Linked DNA regions of Homo sapiens: region 2 is linked to region 1. Evidence: fine-mapped expression QTL. A gene starts in region 1. The other region holds a variant in brackets. All regions are shown on one strand. Distances are between the middles of the regions.

Evidence for each region. PIP is the estimated chance that this variant, and not a neighbour inherited with it, causes the effect.
Region 2: its variant is fine-mapped to the expression of LITATS1 in CD8 T cells (CEDAR, PIP 0.94).

The regions. Positions count from the first base shown.
Region 1 is chr1:37,469,982-37,478,308 of GRCh38, reverse strand. It overlaps LITATS1 (lncRNA induced by TGF-beta and antagonizes TGF-beta signaling 1), which reads left to right and starts at 3,866. Exons shown (of 3, transcript NR_038842.1): 1 at 3,866-4,165. It overlaps ZC3H12A (zinc finger CCCH-type containing 12A), which reads right to left and starts at 3,729. Exons shown (of 6, transcript NM_025079.3): 1 at 3,680-3,729; 2 at 2,370-2,850. The coding sequence starts at 2,812. RefSeq lists enhancers at 775-1,074, 2,785-2,884 and silencers at 3,535-3,994, 4,455-4,554.
Region 2 is chr1:37,441,155-37,449,481 of GRCh38, reverse strand. No RefSeq gene overlaps it. Among named protein-coding and RNA genes, the nearest start is that of LITATS1, 29 kb to the left of the region's middle. The variant AG/G (reference allele first, on the strand shown) is at 4,180.

The DNA.
Region 1 (8,327 bases):
TGCTGCTGGCAAACTCCTGCTCTTCCTTCAGAACCCTTGTGAGATGTCACTGCCTCTGAGAAGCCTTCCCTGACCTGCCACAATAGGTCAGGTCCCTGGTCTGTGTCTTCACAATGCCCAGTGCTTCCCCCATCACATCACCCCCCTTCCTTGGGCCTTCTGGCCTGCCTCTCAAAACCATGGCAGCTGGGTCATCCCAGGCCTGGCTCCTTGTCTCAGGTATGCAGTGTGCGCATGTATCCGCCCACCTGCCTCCCTCCGGGCACATGATCCTAGGCTAGTATCTTGGAGCACTGGGAACTAATGGGATGCCAGGGCTCTCAGGGCAGTGCACTGCCTGTGGGCACTGAAAATCTTGGCTGGGACAAGTCGGTTCTCAGCAGCCCTAGCACCTGAATATTCCCTCAGCAGATGGAAAAACTGATCAGTGGGCGCTATCAGAGCCCTCCTCCTGGTAGAGCACATGAGGCCTGGAGTGCCCCCCTACAGCTAGCTTTAGTCTCTTTCACTGCACTGGAGGAAGCGCTGCTGGCACAGGAAAACCAGACATCCCTGCCCCCATTCCAGTTCTCTTTGCCTGTAAGGTCAGGGTCCCCCAGCCGGGCTAAGCAGACACTGATAGGATGTGTGTGTAGAAGACTCCAGCTAGGCTGCTCCTGCCCCAGGACAGAAGGCAGGGCTGGGCCAGCCTCCCCAGGTGAAAAGATATGCCTGGGCTGGGCCTGGCGAGTGGAAAAAAATTCCCTTAGAAGGAAACAGAGGTGAATTTCCCCATGATTTGCATATGATGGGGGGGCTAGCCCGCCTGCCCCTGGGGAGGGGGGGTGGCCGGGCAGGAACCGAGTAGCAGCTGAGACAGGAAGTTTGAGGCTGGAATTCCCCTCCTGCCACTACCCCAGCTCAGAAACCCCCGAGGTGGGTGCGTGGCTCTGCTTCTCAGGAGCAGGCTCCTCTGAGCACCCCTCATCACAGCCCCTCCTCCCATGTCCCTCCTCCTTCTGGATACAAACACATACTGCATATGGCTGCTCCCAGGGCTCAGCCGCTCCTGGCCCATACCTCCAGAGGAAGGAGTCACACAGATCCAACCTAGCTCCTAGCCCAGCTACATGAGGCTGGACACTGAGAGGGACCCCTTCTAATCTCGAAGCATGGGCTGTGACCTGCTGCCTCTTGGCATGGAAACTGGATTTTCTCAGCCTCCCATCCAGGCTCAGCCCAAGTCAGAGAGAGGAAGACTGGCCTGAAGGTGACAGAAGGAGGGAAGAGCACTCAGCTGCATGCCTGCTGAGCTGGGCCAGGGCCAGCTGGACAGTGAACTTGTCCCACAGGGGCCACAAATTAGGGAGGGCAGAGGCTGATGTCATGCCAGCCTTGGGCAGCCCACCTAGGAGCTCCCTCAGGGCAGCCAGAAAATCATCCCTTCTCAACCCTGTGTCTGGGGTCTCCCCGTCCATGCCAACAGGAACTTTTCCCTGTGAGCCATCCACCCAGCACTGACTCATCAGCCTGCCTTGGAGGGAACTGGGAAAAAAGTGGGGCCAGAGGGTGGAGCCTGGATTGACGGGAGAAGTCTGGGTTTCCCAAGGTCAGCAGCAGCCCTGGCTTCCCTCTCTGCCCCTACCTCCCCACCCCATTCCTGTGCTGGGGGATGGGGGTGGGAGTCACTGGGGGCTGAGTCCTGGCTCTGGCCCCGGGGAACCTCCAGAGACTGGTCCAGCCCAGGCTGCTTCAGCTGAGTCAGTAGGGATCCAAGTTGCAGCTCGCCTGAGGCCAGAGCATCAGGCCACCTGCCCACAACCCATGTAAAGCTGGACCCAGCCTTGAGGTCACTCTTGGACACAGTCACTGGACCTGTTTTCGTGGGAGCCCAGGTCTGAGACAAGAAGGCCTCAGAAGCCCAGCCCCTGAAATAACAACAACAACTGCTACTACCACTGCCTACTACCACTACTATGGTTCCTGAACGCTTGCTCCTCTCCGGGATCCGCACACTCCCTCCTCACAACACCCACCTGAGATCAGGTTCCGAGGGGTGAGTGAGCAGCTGCCCACGGGCTGGTCCCCTTTACAGCCCTGCCTCACATTACAGGAGAGGAGTGGAGACACAGTGCTGGCCTCAGGGAGGGACCCACAGCATAAGGTAAGCTCTGCGGACAGAGGGACCTGGGCTGGAACCCTGCCTCTGTCACTTACCAGTAGCGCGACCCTAGCCTCATAAAAGGCTTTCCCTCCCTCTAGACCAGTCCCTAAGAAGGAAGTCACTTCTTCCAGCCCACCAGAGCTGCAGAGACAGTCATCCTTCCATGTGTCCTGGCCACAGGAGAGATGCGAACCTCATGTGTCCTGGCCACAGAAGTGACACTTACCTCATGGCCACGTTGCTCCCATCGATGACCACTGGTCTCAGGTCGCTGCCCTCCTTTTCCTCTTCTGGGAGTGGAGGCTCCAGGTTGGGAGCCTTAGGGGTGCCACCACCCCGCGGGACTAGAGGGAGCTGAGGGCAGGGGTCCGGTGAGGTCTGGCGCTCCCGCTCGGTGGCTGTCCCGTGTTTCACCAGCTCACCCAGCACCGTGTTGGTGTCTGCCTGGACGCCCAGCTTCTGCAGGACGCTGTGGATCTCCGTGGATGAATAGCCCAGCTTCCGGAAGAAGTCCACCTTCATCTGCAGTTCCAGGGCCGAGGCCTCCTCAGCGGCCAGCTCTTGACCCGGCCTTGGGGTGCCCTGACGGCTGTGGCTGTCCTCAAATTCCCACAGACTCATGGTGGGGCTGGCTTCCAGGACAGGCTTCTCTCCACAGGGGCCACTCATAGCTCAGACTCCTGGAAGGCCCCGCGCCACAGCTCCTACTGAACAACCAACAGGGTTAGGGACGGTGAATAGCGCTCTCTCCTAACCTCCCTCCCAAAACCACATCCAGCAGGATGAGGGATTGGTGGCACTACACACTGCATCGTGTTATTAGTTCAGGTTGTCCTCTCAAAAGCTCTCCCAGCTAGGCATTCCCATTCCCATTCTATAAAGGGAGAAACTGAGGCACAGACATTAAAAACGTGCTCAAGGTCATCCAGCTGTTAGCTGGTGGCTCGAAGATCGGAACTTAGTCTGAACTAAGACTGGAACTACCCCAGCTGTAAAGCCTCGAACCCCCACGCCAACCCAGGGGACCCAGAAGGCAGGGACGGGGCTCTCAGATGGAATCCTGGGGCTGGAAGTGCGTTGCGGGGCCCAAGGCTTCCCCACTGAGGCCACCACTTTCGCCCACCCGTCCGGCACTCAGAGCTCAGGCCCAGGCAGCGCAAGGCCCATGGCCGGACTCCCGGAGCCGGGGAGGGCAAGTTTCTGGGGTGACCCGTGGGGAGAAAAGTTGCTGGAAAACTTTGGTTGGCTGCCGGGAGCTGGTGACGCCGAGGCTGTCCCGGCCCGAGACCCGCGCTTGCTCGGCCCGCGATCCCGATCAGGAACCTGGTGCTCTTCCCCGGCTCTCCCAACTTGGGCAAAGTTGGAGGGGTCCTGAGGCCCGGCGGGCCGGGGAACAGGACCCCGACCCTTCCGTCCCCTCCCCTCTCCACCCCTCCCGTCCCCTCCCGTCCCCTCCCCTCGGCTCGGCTCGGACCCCGCCGGAGCGCTCCCTGCCGCTTCCCCGCCGAGGCCCGCACCCTCCCCGCCGCGCCTCACCCCGCCATGCGCCAGCGGCGGCCGGCGGCGTCTCCATGGGGCCGAGTCCTGGGGGTAAGGACGGCGGCGCCTTTATATGGGGCGGCGCGCGGGCAGGTGGTGGTGAGGCACTGACGCGGAAGCGGGCAAGGGGCGGGGCCGTCCCGGGAGACCGCCCCGGGGGCGGGGCTGCCTCGCCCCTTCCTGCTCCGCTCCTCGCGTCGCGGCCCCGCCCCCGCGGCCGCTGCGCGCCGGACGGGGCCCAAGCGGGGGTCGGAGCCTCAAGGCTGCGGCGGCGACGAGCTCCGAGCGGGACACTGAACGGCCCGTATGCGCAAGATAAGCACGGACTGAATCAGGTACACGCACCTGCCGGGGACGCACTGACCGAGGTGCGGACGGCGGTACCAGGACAGGTAAAGCCGCGAACACTCGGACCTAAGAACTTGACAGGTACACCCTGCCTGATGAAGCTACGTACGGCCAGGTGCGCATCGAGTGAATCAGGTACGCGGAGGTTGGTCCACGCACCTTGGAGGCAGGTCCATGGTTATAGACAGGTACATCCAGACAGGCACTTTTCAGATGGAGTCAGGCCCCCTCAAGACACACTGTGCTTAAAGCCGTCACACAGAGGTTGGCCACCCCCGGGGCCAGGTACACTTTTCCTGAAATCTGTACTTTACTAGGACCAAAAGGCAGGTTCAGTCAGCAGATGCACAATGACCGAGGCAGAAAACCAGGCAAAAGAGGGCCATTTACCCCAATCACCACATGAATACTGTCCACACAAGAATACTGTCACCCATACCGCAGAACTCACTGAGCGCCCCCACTGGAGGAGCACCCTTGCTCCATGAAGATGCTTTTAGTTTCCCAGGTCAGACCTGATCCCTCGCATGAGCACAGCACTTTACAGGCTTACACTCACGGGCTTACAGACAGAGGTCATTATGCTGATGTTACCCTTGAGAAATTCTGCAAAGGCTAAACTGCCCCAGCTGGAAAGACTCGAACCAGGATGGAGAGCTCCTATTCTAGTGCTCCTATTATTTGCCATTTTTGTGAACCACGAGTGACTGAGGGCAGAGGGGAGCCTGGCTTCCTATGTGTGTGTGTGTGTGTGCGTGCGTGTGTGTGAGTGAGAGAGAGAGAGAGAAAACACAGAGCCCACACGCTGGAGGACAGAGCCACATGCCACCAGTGCTTACTATGTGCCAGTCCTTTGTTACATTCTCTCTACCTCATCATAGGCATGTATCCTATAAGTGCTAGTGTTATAATAAATACTTGTTTATTGTAAAAGACACCATAGACACAACTGTACATGTACAGCTTAAAGAATAATAGTAATAATAAAAAAGCCATGTATCCATCACCTAACTTAAAAAATAGACCAGTGCCAGTACCTTGAGGCCCTCTGGGTGCCCCCATCACAGCCTCCTGCCCACATCCTGAAGAACTAGTTTCCTGAACTTTAATTGTGCTAGTCATTCTCTTGCTTTTTCTTGTAGTTTTACCACCTCTGTATGCATCCCTAAGTGGGATATTGTATAGTTTTGCTATTTTTTACTTTGTGTAAACGGAGTCATTCCATAATTATGTGACTTCCTTTTTCATACAGCATTATATTTTTAAAAATCCATTTTGATTGCCTGCATACCTGTAATTTATTTTACTACTGAATAGTGTCCCATTTTATGAATATACCACTGGTTACTTATTCAGTCACCTGCTGTTGGATGTTGTTTCTAGGATTTTTTTTCTATTACAAAGACTGTGCTTTGGATATTCTTGTATGTATCTTAATGAAATTGTACAGTGGAGGAAATGGATGTTCAGAGATTCAGAAAGGTGAAGTCACCTGCTCAGGCTCTGGGGGCTGGTGGAGCTGGAACTCATGTAGCTCTCTCCAAGGCAGTCCATCTCCCCATCCACACCTGCTTGTTCGGGAGGCCACCAAAGACCCCAGGGAGGCAGGCGTGTACGTCTCTATCTGGACCCTGAGGCTGTTCCTCTGGGCTTGCTTGCTCTTACCTAGCGGTGTTCCTGCTTTGTTGCCTGGTCATCTTTGAAGACCCCAAAGTGTCCCCTTCTCTGCTCCCCAGGCACAGCAGCTCCAGGGGCTTGGCAACCCAAGGAGAGAGGAAACACAAGGCCCCCTGCTGCATGCCAGCTCACATCCCATGCTGGGCACCTCACATGCTTGCTGTCACTCCAGCTGAGTGCGGTGCCGGCGGCACCCCTAACCTCACAACAGTCCCTTTTACAGATGAGAAGAGCTCAGTTATGTTAAGCATTTATTCGCTATAGCAACTACCTTTAAGATAGTAAAAACATTAAGTGATGTGTCCAGGTTAATAATGATAATGACAATACTAATCAATCATAGAGATAATGCCTCCCATTTATAGAGTGCTCACTGGGTGGCAGGCACCAGCTAGCGCCTTGCAGACACTTTCGGGCCTCTGCTCTGCTTCTTCCTTGGCTTGGAGTGCCCTTCCCTCTCTCCCACCCAGCTGCTTCCTAGCCAGTTCCATTCATCTTTTGGATGATGTCACCTCCTCTGTGAGGCCAGCCAAGACTCCTTTGATGCTGGTTGTACCCTCCTAAGTGTCCCCACAACACCCTGCCTATGTCCCAACGTGTTAGATTGTCTTTGCCAGCCTGAGACCTCCTCTGGAGCTGCAACAAGACCAGACTCTGCTCCTGCTCCCAGACCCTCTGCTGCCCAGCCCTGTGCCAGTAGGAGCCAGCAGGACTAGGCGATGAGTCATGCTGCTCCCTGCCCTCCCAGAGAGAGCCACAGTCTCGCTGTCTTCCGGCTCATGCTACTTCCCAAGAAGCCGACTCTCCTCTACAGAACCCACGGCTTCTTTGGGGAACCCCTGCTCCGTTTACAGCTGGATTTTGCAAACTTTGGCCCTAATCCCCAGGAGTTCTCTGAAGCCGAGCCCACACAAACCCCTCTGCCTCTCGTATGCCTGTCTTGGCAGCTGGGCTGGCTAATTTCCTTCTTGGAGCCTGCCTGGCCTCCCACCATCTATCTGCCTGTGCCCAGCCAGCGTAGGTGGGGTCTGCAAAGCTTGTGGACTGGTCACTGCCTGAGGGTGGTGGGGGGTTGGGAGATGAGGTTGGAGAGGGAAAGGTCCCAGGAATGACCTTGGCTTTCAGTTGCTTCACTGGGCAGCTCAGCCTGGGGAGGACCCGGGAACTGGGCTACCTCTGTAGAAAGGCTGGGCAGGCTGCCCTCAAGCCTTAAGGGAGTGGCTGCTGAGGTGATGTTTAAATTCAACAAGGCCTCCTAGAAGTGAAGAAAGGACCAGATCCCTCCCATGTTTGAGACTCCTGGTATATTTCTTTTTATTTTTTATTTTCGAGATGGAGTCTGGCTCTGTCGCCCAGGCTGGAGTGCAGTGGCGCGATCTCAGCTCACTGCAAGCTCCGCCTCCCAGGTTCATGCCATTCTCCTGCCTCAGCCTCCCGAGTAGCTGGGACTACCAGTAGCTGGGACTACAGGTGCCTGCCAACACACCTGGATAATTTTTTTGTGTTTTTAGTAGAAACGGGGTTTCACCGTGTTAGCCAGGATGGTCTCGATCTCTTGACCTCGTGATCCGCCCGCCTTGGCCTCCCAAAGTGCTGGGATTACAGGCATGAGCCACTGCTCCCGGCCAGACTCCTGGTATATTTCAAAAAGACATGTCACAGCAGGGCTACAAAAATCAATGTATGTTTTAAACGGTAACTGAACAAATTAACTCTTTTTTTTTTAAATCATGCATTCAAATGCGGTGCAATATATTTGGACTATTGACAAGATAATTGGAGAACTTGTATTAAAAATACATTATTTCCTTGGAGAGATGGCTGATTTTAGGGCTGGGACAGGGAAAGGATGAGCCGGCAGTGTGCTGTGGTGCCAGGGATTTAGGAAGCGCTCAAAACACAAAAGGATGGGAGTGCGTCAAAGGGATCCAGGAGCCAGAAGAGCTCCCTATGGCCAAAGCTGGAGCAACTGAGCAAGGGAATAAATAATAGGATAATATTGAATTATAACCTAAAGTATAAAATAAATATTTATACTGATATAAATAATTTTTTTGTTTTCAGAGCCAGGGTCTTGCTCTGTCGCCCAGGCTTGAGTGCAGTGCCGTGATCATAGCTCACTGTAACCTTGAACTCCTGGGCTTAAACGATCCTCCTGCTTCAGCCTCCTGAGTAGCTAGGACTACAGTTGTGCACCACCACGCCTGGCAAATTAAAAAAATTTTTTTTGTAGAGATGGGGATCTCGCTATGTTGCCCAAGCTGGTCTTGAACTCCTGGCCGGAAATAGTCCTCCACCTTGGTCCCCCAAAGTGCTGGGATTAAAGGCATGAGCCACCATACCCAGCCCTGATATAAATAAATTGTTGAATCAATAACCTACTGGGGGAGAAGAGGCAAGTCTTCCTTACAGAAGAATTTCCAATAATGAATGCAGATTGTTTCTCCTCTAGGAGGTGGAGCTTAATTATTCCTTTCCCTTCCCTTTCCTGTACACTGGACTCAGGACTTGCTTCTAAATAATAGAGTAGGGAAAGAGAAGAATAGTAACTATACAATGGAGAAACCTGCAGACACCACTTTAACCAAGGGCTCAAGGTTAACATCACCAGTGATAAGTC
Region 2 (8,327 bases), 29 kb after region 1:
TGTCTGTTTCCCTCTGCTGGAGCTGCCCGGGGAATTTCAATATAAAACAAACAAGTTGGCTTTTAAAATTAAAATTTTATGGGTGGCATTTCCTCATTTAATGGGTGGCACAAAAGAGTGGAGTAAAACCAATTAACATGGGGTTGAGACTCGGTGTTCAGAAAAACTAAACAACAGGAGCGCGGTGCGCCAGGAGCCAGGAGCAGTTCCAGCAGAGGCTGGGGAGGTGCGCGGGTGAGGCAGTTGTGGAGGCTCCCCCCACTCCCTGGCAGCTGTGTGCACCCAGGTCGGGCACTAGCACATACAGGGATGCCAGCCTCAGCTCCCCACCCAGCTCTACCCCCAGGACCCATGCCCAGGGGTTGGTGTGCACATCTACCTTGCACATTCAGATGGCAGGCGATAGTGGGGGCTGAGAATGTGGAGGGGCGGGGGAGGCTGCCTTGGAGCCCTGGGGTCCTGGACACTGTTGTCTGGAGAAGCATTAGGAAGTAGCTAAGGCCTCTGCCAGGGCCAGCATTCATTCGGATAGTTATCCTCTGACGCAATCTGAGTCCTACTCACGAGGGCCTCATCTTCATCATGGCTATGCCCCAGGGCCCAGACCGCACCAGGAGTGTGGCAAGTGCTGCATAGATGCTGGATACCTGGATGAATGACTTCATTCCGGCAAACAATACTAATGGAAATCCTGCTCTGCTGTGACTCCCTCAGGGTGGGTGTCACCCGGCATAGGGTGTGTTTGGGGTAGAAATGGTGAAGATACCACAGGAGATCTGAGGAGCAGGGGCATGCCTGGGTGGCGCTGCAGGGAGAGAATGGCTCTGTGGAACTGGCAAGGGCAGAGTGAACAGGGCTGGAGAAGAGGCAGTCCGGGCAAGGGCGGGGTGGGGAGGGAGCTGAGAAATTGAGGTGGCTGAATCTGGCCTGGAAGGAAGTAGGGGTAAGAAGATGAGTCTGGAGAGACCAGTCGGGGCTGGCTTGTGAAGAGTGGCAGGTTGCTTTGACTTCATCTCAGGGCAATGGGGACTTGCTGCAGGCTCAGAGCAAGGTGATGTGATTCCAGGTGGCTTCAGGGACACTGACTCTGGAGGCTGGTGGGAGGGAAAGGAGAGTCCCGCCAGGTGTGCTGGCATCCCTGCAGGCTGAGCTGAGTACTTCAGGCTGGTTGGTTAAGGTGAACTGTGGCTGCTGGGGGTGGGGAGGGAAGGCAGGGATGATGGTGGGGCCTTTCTCTGAGCTGGAGAGCCTGGAGGAGGAGCAGGTTGGGAAAGTGGAGGGGTTCAGTTGTGGCAACATCAGCAGCCCCCCAATATAGACCCAACTGTGCTAAGGATATAGGAAGGAGATTTCAGACTGGCAGTGACAACTAGATCCCATAAATATAGGGAGGGATATGGTGCCACAGCCCCCTAGGACTCCCGCCAGCCCCAGGAGCCTCCCAGGAATACAGGCCTCCCAGCTTCGGGGCAAAGGGCTCAGGCCACCTCTTTTGTTCCCTCCATCTCTTTCCTTCCCACACTGGCCCTTTCTGTCCCCCAGTGGGGCAGCGTTCTCCCCACCCTTTCTGTCCTCTGACCTTTCATTCTATGGGAAGGACCACTCTGGTTACAGGAACCCCCAGAGTGGCAAAAAGATGGAGGAGGCCAAGGGCATCACCTGCCCAATGTCAGGAGATTGAGCTGGTTGCCATGGCCACCGCCAGCATCCTTAGTCCTCCCCAGTCAGGCCTTCAGACCTGAAAATACACTCCCAGAGTCGTGCAGACTGTGGGCCCCGGGCTGACCTCCAGCAGGGGCATGGCCAGTGGGTGCCAGTACTAATGGAACTCCTGCTCTGCTTCGACTCCCTCGGGGTGTGTGTCACTCAGGAGGGTGTCTTTGAGGGAACATCTATGGTCAGAGGAAGAAGGGCTTCCTAATTCAGGTCTGTGCCGATCCATTCCTGTCAAAGTCCATCCAAGGTGTGTCAGACAACCCAGGTGATGGTCTCTCTGAGAGCAATCTGAGAACCTGTCTGAGTTCCTCTCTTTGAGGCCTGTTTGAAGGCCTACAGACTGTCTGGGTTGGCCCAAGGGCCAGTAGCACAAAACTAATATGGATGGCCGAAGGCCAAGGCTGGCACTGACCCTTCTCCCTTCATACAACAAAGAGTGAATCTGGCTAAGCTTGAAGTAGGTTCTTGTGGCCAGGGGGCTGGTGGAGTAGCTGGTGTTTTTCGTTTGATGATGGATTTTGTTTATTCCAGACCACAAAAAGTTGGCCAAAGCCCCCCTTCCCCCCCGACCATTTATCTGTACAGCTGGCTGGCTGACCTTGACATCTGGCAAAGGCAAAACACTTCTTGAAGACCTCACTGCCTGCCCACACCTCCCTGGGGAAAGAGACACAGTTGTGCCCTGTCTGAAATGGGCTTTTAAGTACGAATAGGGAATTCACCTGGTGAACAAGGTCAGGAAGAACAGTATTGACCGAGTGATACCAGTGAAGACACAGAAATTCAAAACAGTTCTCTGTGGGCCAAGAGAACAACTACATCAGTTTTTCTGGAGTCCAGAACTTGCAAGAGCTTGACATTCGAGTATCACATGAAATCACGTAAGAGAAAGGGTCTTACAAACTAGCATACTGCACAAAATGAGGGCTCACTGTTACCGCCCATCTCTCCTGTTTGTTATGGGAACCAAGTGAGTCGAGATGTGTGAAGTTGCGTTGTAAGCTGGAAGAGTGTTTATGAAAATGTTAATTAATACATTTAGAGAGTAGGTAGATTAAGTGTGAGAATGTGGAGATAGAACAGACAATTAAAATATCTGCTAATTTTTCTCTTGAATTCACATTTTAGGAAATGTTTATAAACTGAGAATTCTAATTACTTTTCTCCTTCACACCTCTTTTCAGATGAATACATTGTAAGAGAATTATAGTATCTGTTAAAAATATTGCCAATCCCAGTGTATCAGTTGGGACTCCTTACAGGGAAAGGAACAGGAGATCCACTGCAACTTGGATTAACCAGTAAAAGGAATGTGTGGTCCGTGTGATTTGGAAGTCTGGGGGTGTATTAGTCTTTTTTCACACTGCTGTAAAGATACTACCTGAGACTGGGTAATTTATAAACAAAAGAGGTTTAATTGACTTACAGTTCTGCATGGCTGGGGAGGCCTCAGGAGACTTACAATCATGGCGGAAGGTGAAGGAGAAGCAAGTACCCTTTTCACAAGATGGCAGGAGGGGGAAGGAGAGAGAGAGAGGAGAGAGGGAAGAGGGGAGGGAGAGAGAGAGGGAGAGAGACAGGGAGGTAAAGAGAAGGAGAGGCAGAGGGAGAGAGAGTGGGAGGGATCAAGGGGGAGAGAGGGAGAGAGATGGGGAGACTGGGAGAGTGGGAGAGTGGGAGACAGAGTGAGAGAGAGAATGAGCAGGGGAAACTGCCACTTTTAAACCATCAGATCTGGTGAGAACTCCCTCACTATCATGAGAACAGCATGGGGGAAACCACCCCTGTAATCCAATCACCTCCCACCAGTTCGTAATTGACACACAGGGATTACAATTAGAAACGAATTTTGGAGGCGGGGCGCGGTGGCTCACGCCTGTAATCCCAGCACTTTGGGAGGCTGAGGCGGGTGAATTACGAGGTCAGGAATTCGAGACCAGCCTGGCCAACATAGTGAAACCCCGTCTCTACTAAAAATACAAAAAAATTAGCCAGGTGTGGTGGCACATGCCTGTAGTCCCAGCTACTCGGGAGGCTGAGGCGGGATAATTGTGTGAACCTGGGAGGCAGAGGTTGCAGTGAGCTGAGATCATGCCTTTGCACTCCAGCCTGGGTGACAGAGTGACACTCTGTCTCAAAAAAAAAAAAAAAAAAGAAGAGCCGGGCGTGGTAGCTCACGCCTGTAATCCCAGCACTTTGGGAGGCTGAGGTGGGTGGATCACTTGAGGTCAGGAGTTCAAGACCAGCCTGGCCACCATGGTGAAATGCCACCTCTATTAAAAATACAAAAATTAGCCAGGTGTGGTGGCGTATGCCTGTAATCCCAGCTACTTGGGGGGCTGAGGCAGGAGAATCACCTGAACCAGGGAGGCAGAGGTTGTAGTGAGCTGAGATTATGCCATTGCACTCCAGCCTGGACAATAAGAGGGAAACTCTGTCTCAAAAAAAAAAAAAAAAAAAAAA[AG/G]TTTTGGGTGGGGACACGGCCAAACCATATCAATAGGTAAGACGAACTTCAAAGGGGATTTGATCCAGAGTTTGTTACTCAGGCTCAGGCTTGCTTCTCCTAGGCTTTTCCCTCTAAATCCTGGGAGAGAGAGAGAGGCTTCTCCTTGGCCAAAAATTCAGCACAATTCCTGAGCTGCACTTCTGATGGGTCTAACTTGGGTCAGGAGCGGGGGGAATGCCAGGCCTTAGTTCTGCATAAAGTGCCCATCACTGAAAGAATCACTGTGGTACCAGAGGCAGGTGAAATGGGTGCTGGGAGCCCACCAGGATGCCTACTATTCCTGGTTGCTCAGGTAGACCACTGGGTTTCAGATGTGCCAACCTGGAGTTGTGTTCAATTTCCTGCCCTCATTGCTGATTCATCATCTAGAATTTCTCTTCTCTGTAGTTCTTCCTTTGCAGCCATGATCCTGGGCCAGGCCTTGTCCCATCAATCCACACTCAAACTACTACCATAGTTTTTTTTTTTTTTTTAGCTACTTAGTCACTAGCCTCTTTCCTTGCCAATACATCTTCTTCCCCTATAGCCGCTCAAAAGCTTAACACATTTAATCACAGCAAAGAACACACATCACAGCTGATGTGATAAGACAAAAAACACAATTTCAAAATTTATGGGAAAACTGTCATCATGTGCCAGAGACACAATTTTATAACTAGAAAACTCAATGAAAGTAACTAAAAACAATTAATTATAGCAAATGAAAAGTTTAGGCCAGGCCTGGTGGCTCATGCCTGTAATCCCAGCACTTTGGGAGGCCCAGGTGAGAGGATCATTTGAGGCCAGGAGTTAGAGGCCAGCCTGGGCAACACGGTGAGACCCCATCTCTATAAAAATGAAAAGAAGTTAGCTGGGCATGGTGGTGCATATTATTCAGGAGGTTGAGGTGGGAGGATCACTTGAGGCCAGGAGTTGGAGACCAGCCTGGGTCACAGAGCAAGACTGTCTCTATTTTTTTTTTAATTAATTTTTTTTTTACACTGCAGGAAGAGACCCTGTCTCTTAAAAAAAAAAGTTTAGTAAGATGTCAGATACAAAATAATAAAAATTTAAAGCTTTCTTCTTCTTCTTTTTTTTTTGCAATGGCACGATCTCGGCTCACTGCAACCTCTGCCTCCTGGGTTCAAGCGATTCTCCTGCCTCAGCCTCCTGAGTAGCTGGGATTACAGGTGCGCACCACCATGCCTGGCTAATTTTTGTATTTTTAGTAGAGATGGGGTTTCACCATGCTGGTCAGGCTGGTCTCGATCTCCTGACCTCATGATCCACCCGTCTTGGCCTCCCAAAGCGCTGGGATTACAGGCGTGAGCCACTGTGCCCCAGCCAGCTTTTTTCTATAATGGCAATAATCAGTTTTAAAATATTGTAGCAGGTTATCTGAATAAGAGGGTCTTTTTTTTTTTTCCGACCTAATGAAGCTCAGTTGGGGATAGTTGTTTTCTAGAAATCATGTTAATTTTAGGGGTGTAGACACATGTGAACTTGAAGCACACCCCTTATTTTATTTCATTTTTAAGTTTTCTGTTTTTGTTTTTGTTTTGAGACAGCCTTGCTCTGTCACCCAGCATGGAATGCAGTGGTGAGATCATAGCTCTCTGCAGCCTCAAGCTTCTGGGTTCAAATGATCCTTCCACCTTGCCCTCCCAACTAGCTGGGACTACAGGCATGACCCACTACACCTGACTAATTTATTTATTTAGTTTTGTAGAGATGGTGGTCTCACCATATTGCCCAGGCTGATCTCAAACTCCTGGTCTCATGGGATCTTCCCACCTTGGCCTCCCAAGGTGCTGAAATTACAGGCATGAGCCACGGTACCCAACCTCTTCTCCTCTCATTTTAATAAAATCACTGGGACAGGTCCTTTATAGGAATAAGGCAAACACCACCTGCTTGTCTGGGAAGAGCCCTGGAAGAACTGTAAGTGGTGGAATGCAAACTGAGATGTTAAATATTCTGTTTCATAATGACTGCGTTTCAAGCAGAGTTTGCTATGGATGTGACCTGGTTTTATGGCCTGGGTGGGAGCAGAGAAGAACAGGGATTTTCAGGTGTGGGGAGGCCTGAGGAAGCTTTCATTGGTGGCTGTGCTCTCCCATACAATAGGGACCCTGAGAATGGGTGTACAGTCCAGGGTCCCAAGGGAACACTGTGTAGCTGTCAGTGTAGCCGTGTAGGAACCCTGACTGCAGCAAATGAAGACAGAAGGAGGAAAGACAGTGGTGGGGGTGGGGGAGCAGGGAGACAGAGAGAGAGACAGACAGACAGACAGACAGACACACAGAAACAGAGACAGACATACATACACACACAGAGACAGAGAAAGAGACAGAGAGAGAAAAAGAGGCAGACAGAAAGAGACAGGCAGAGAGAGACACACACACAGAGAGACAGAGAGACAGACAGACACACACACACACACAGAGACAGACAGACACACACAGAGACAGAGAGAGACAGAAAAAGACAGAGACAGACACAGAGAGACACAGAGACAGAGACACCGACAAACACAGAGAGACAGACAGACACGGAGAAAGAGAGAGAGAGACAGAGAGAGACAGAGAAAGAGACAGACAGAAATAGAAACACAGAGAGAGGGAGAGACAGAGAGAGACAGACAGAGACAGACACAGAGAAAGAGAGAGAGATAGGGAGAGAGAGAAAGACTGACAGACAGGGAGAGACACACACACACAGAGACAGAGAGAGGGAGAGTGGAGGGAGAGAGAGAGAGAGAGGGAGAGTGGAGGGAGAGAGAGAGACAGAGAGAGGGAGAGTGGAGGGAGAGAGAGAGACGGAGAGTGGAGGGAGAGAGAGAGACAGAGAGAGAGAGAGTGGAGGGAGAGAGAGAGACAGAGAGAGGGAGAGTGGAGGGAGAGAGAGAGAGAGAGACAGAGAGAGGGAGAGCGGAGGGGATGCAAGAGAAGCCGGCAGGAGAAGGAGCGGTGAGACAGTGAGTTGAGAAGTGGCCCCAGGACTGTGTGTGGAACATACAAGCACCTGTCTGGATCCCCCAGATGCCAAAGTATAATTCTCAAAATATTAAAACCATAATTCTCATGCAATACACAGTGAGCACCATCAAAATATTATTTAGCTCAATGAGAGAATCTTTAAACAAGGTGGTTCAAAGAAGAATATGAGAAACTCGCATGAAAAATGATGATGGAATAAGATACTAAATTAGATATGAAATTGGTTGATAGCCTATAGGACATTAAAACCATAACCTTTTGGGATTATTTTCTCTAGTGGATGGAAATCACTTGCCCCTTACCAGTTTTCTACAAGTAAACATCTAATTTTACAGAGCCTGGGCCCTAAGCAATAGTCAAATAGACTAGTCAAATAGAATGTCGAACATTCTCGTTACTCTAGACAGGCTTGTTGGCCAATGCTTGGGGCGTGGAGAGGAATTAAACCACATTTTTGCCAGTTTTAGAATCTCATGGAGAAATAGACCATGTTTGGTTTGGGTTTTGGGGGTTCAAAGTCATTTTAAATGGACTCTGAGAAGAAATATGAGCCACACTTGGATCCCAACATGGTGAGGTGGGGCACAGAGAAGCAGCGTCACGTGGTACCCGTGGCCTGGGGACAACTTGTGGGGGTGAGGAGATGGCCTGTACCCACCGCTATGCCGGGCTTCGAAGCACCTCTCCTTAGACTTCAGAGTCGCATCAAGCTTTTCGTTTTCTGGAGGGTTTTTTTTTCTTTTAAAACTTTTATTTGTATTTATTTATTTATCTATTTACTTTTTGAGACAGGGTCTCACCCTGTCACCCAGGCTGGAGTGCAGAGGCATGATCACGGCTCACTGCAGCCTCGATCTCCTGGGCGCAGGTGATCCTCCCACCTCAGCCCCCTCAGTAGATGGGACTATAGGAAGGCACCACCACACATTTTTCTATTTTTATTAGAGATGGGGTTTCACTATGTTGCCCAGACTAGTGCTTTTTTTTAAAATTAAAAATTTAAAATTGTGTTAAAATATACAAAACAAAATCGATCGTTTCAATATTATTTTATTTATTTATTTAGACAGAGTCTCGCTCTGTTGCCTGGGCTGCAGCAGCCTTGAACTCCTGGGCTCAAGTGATCC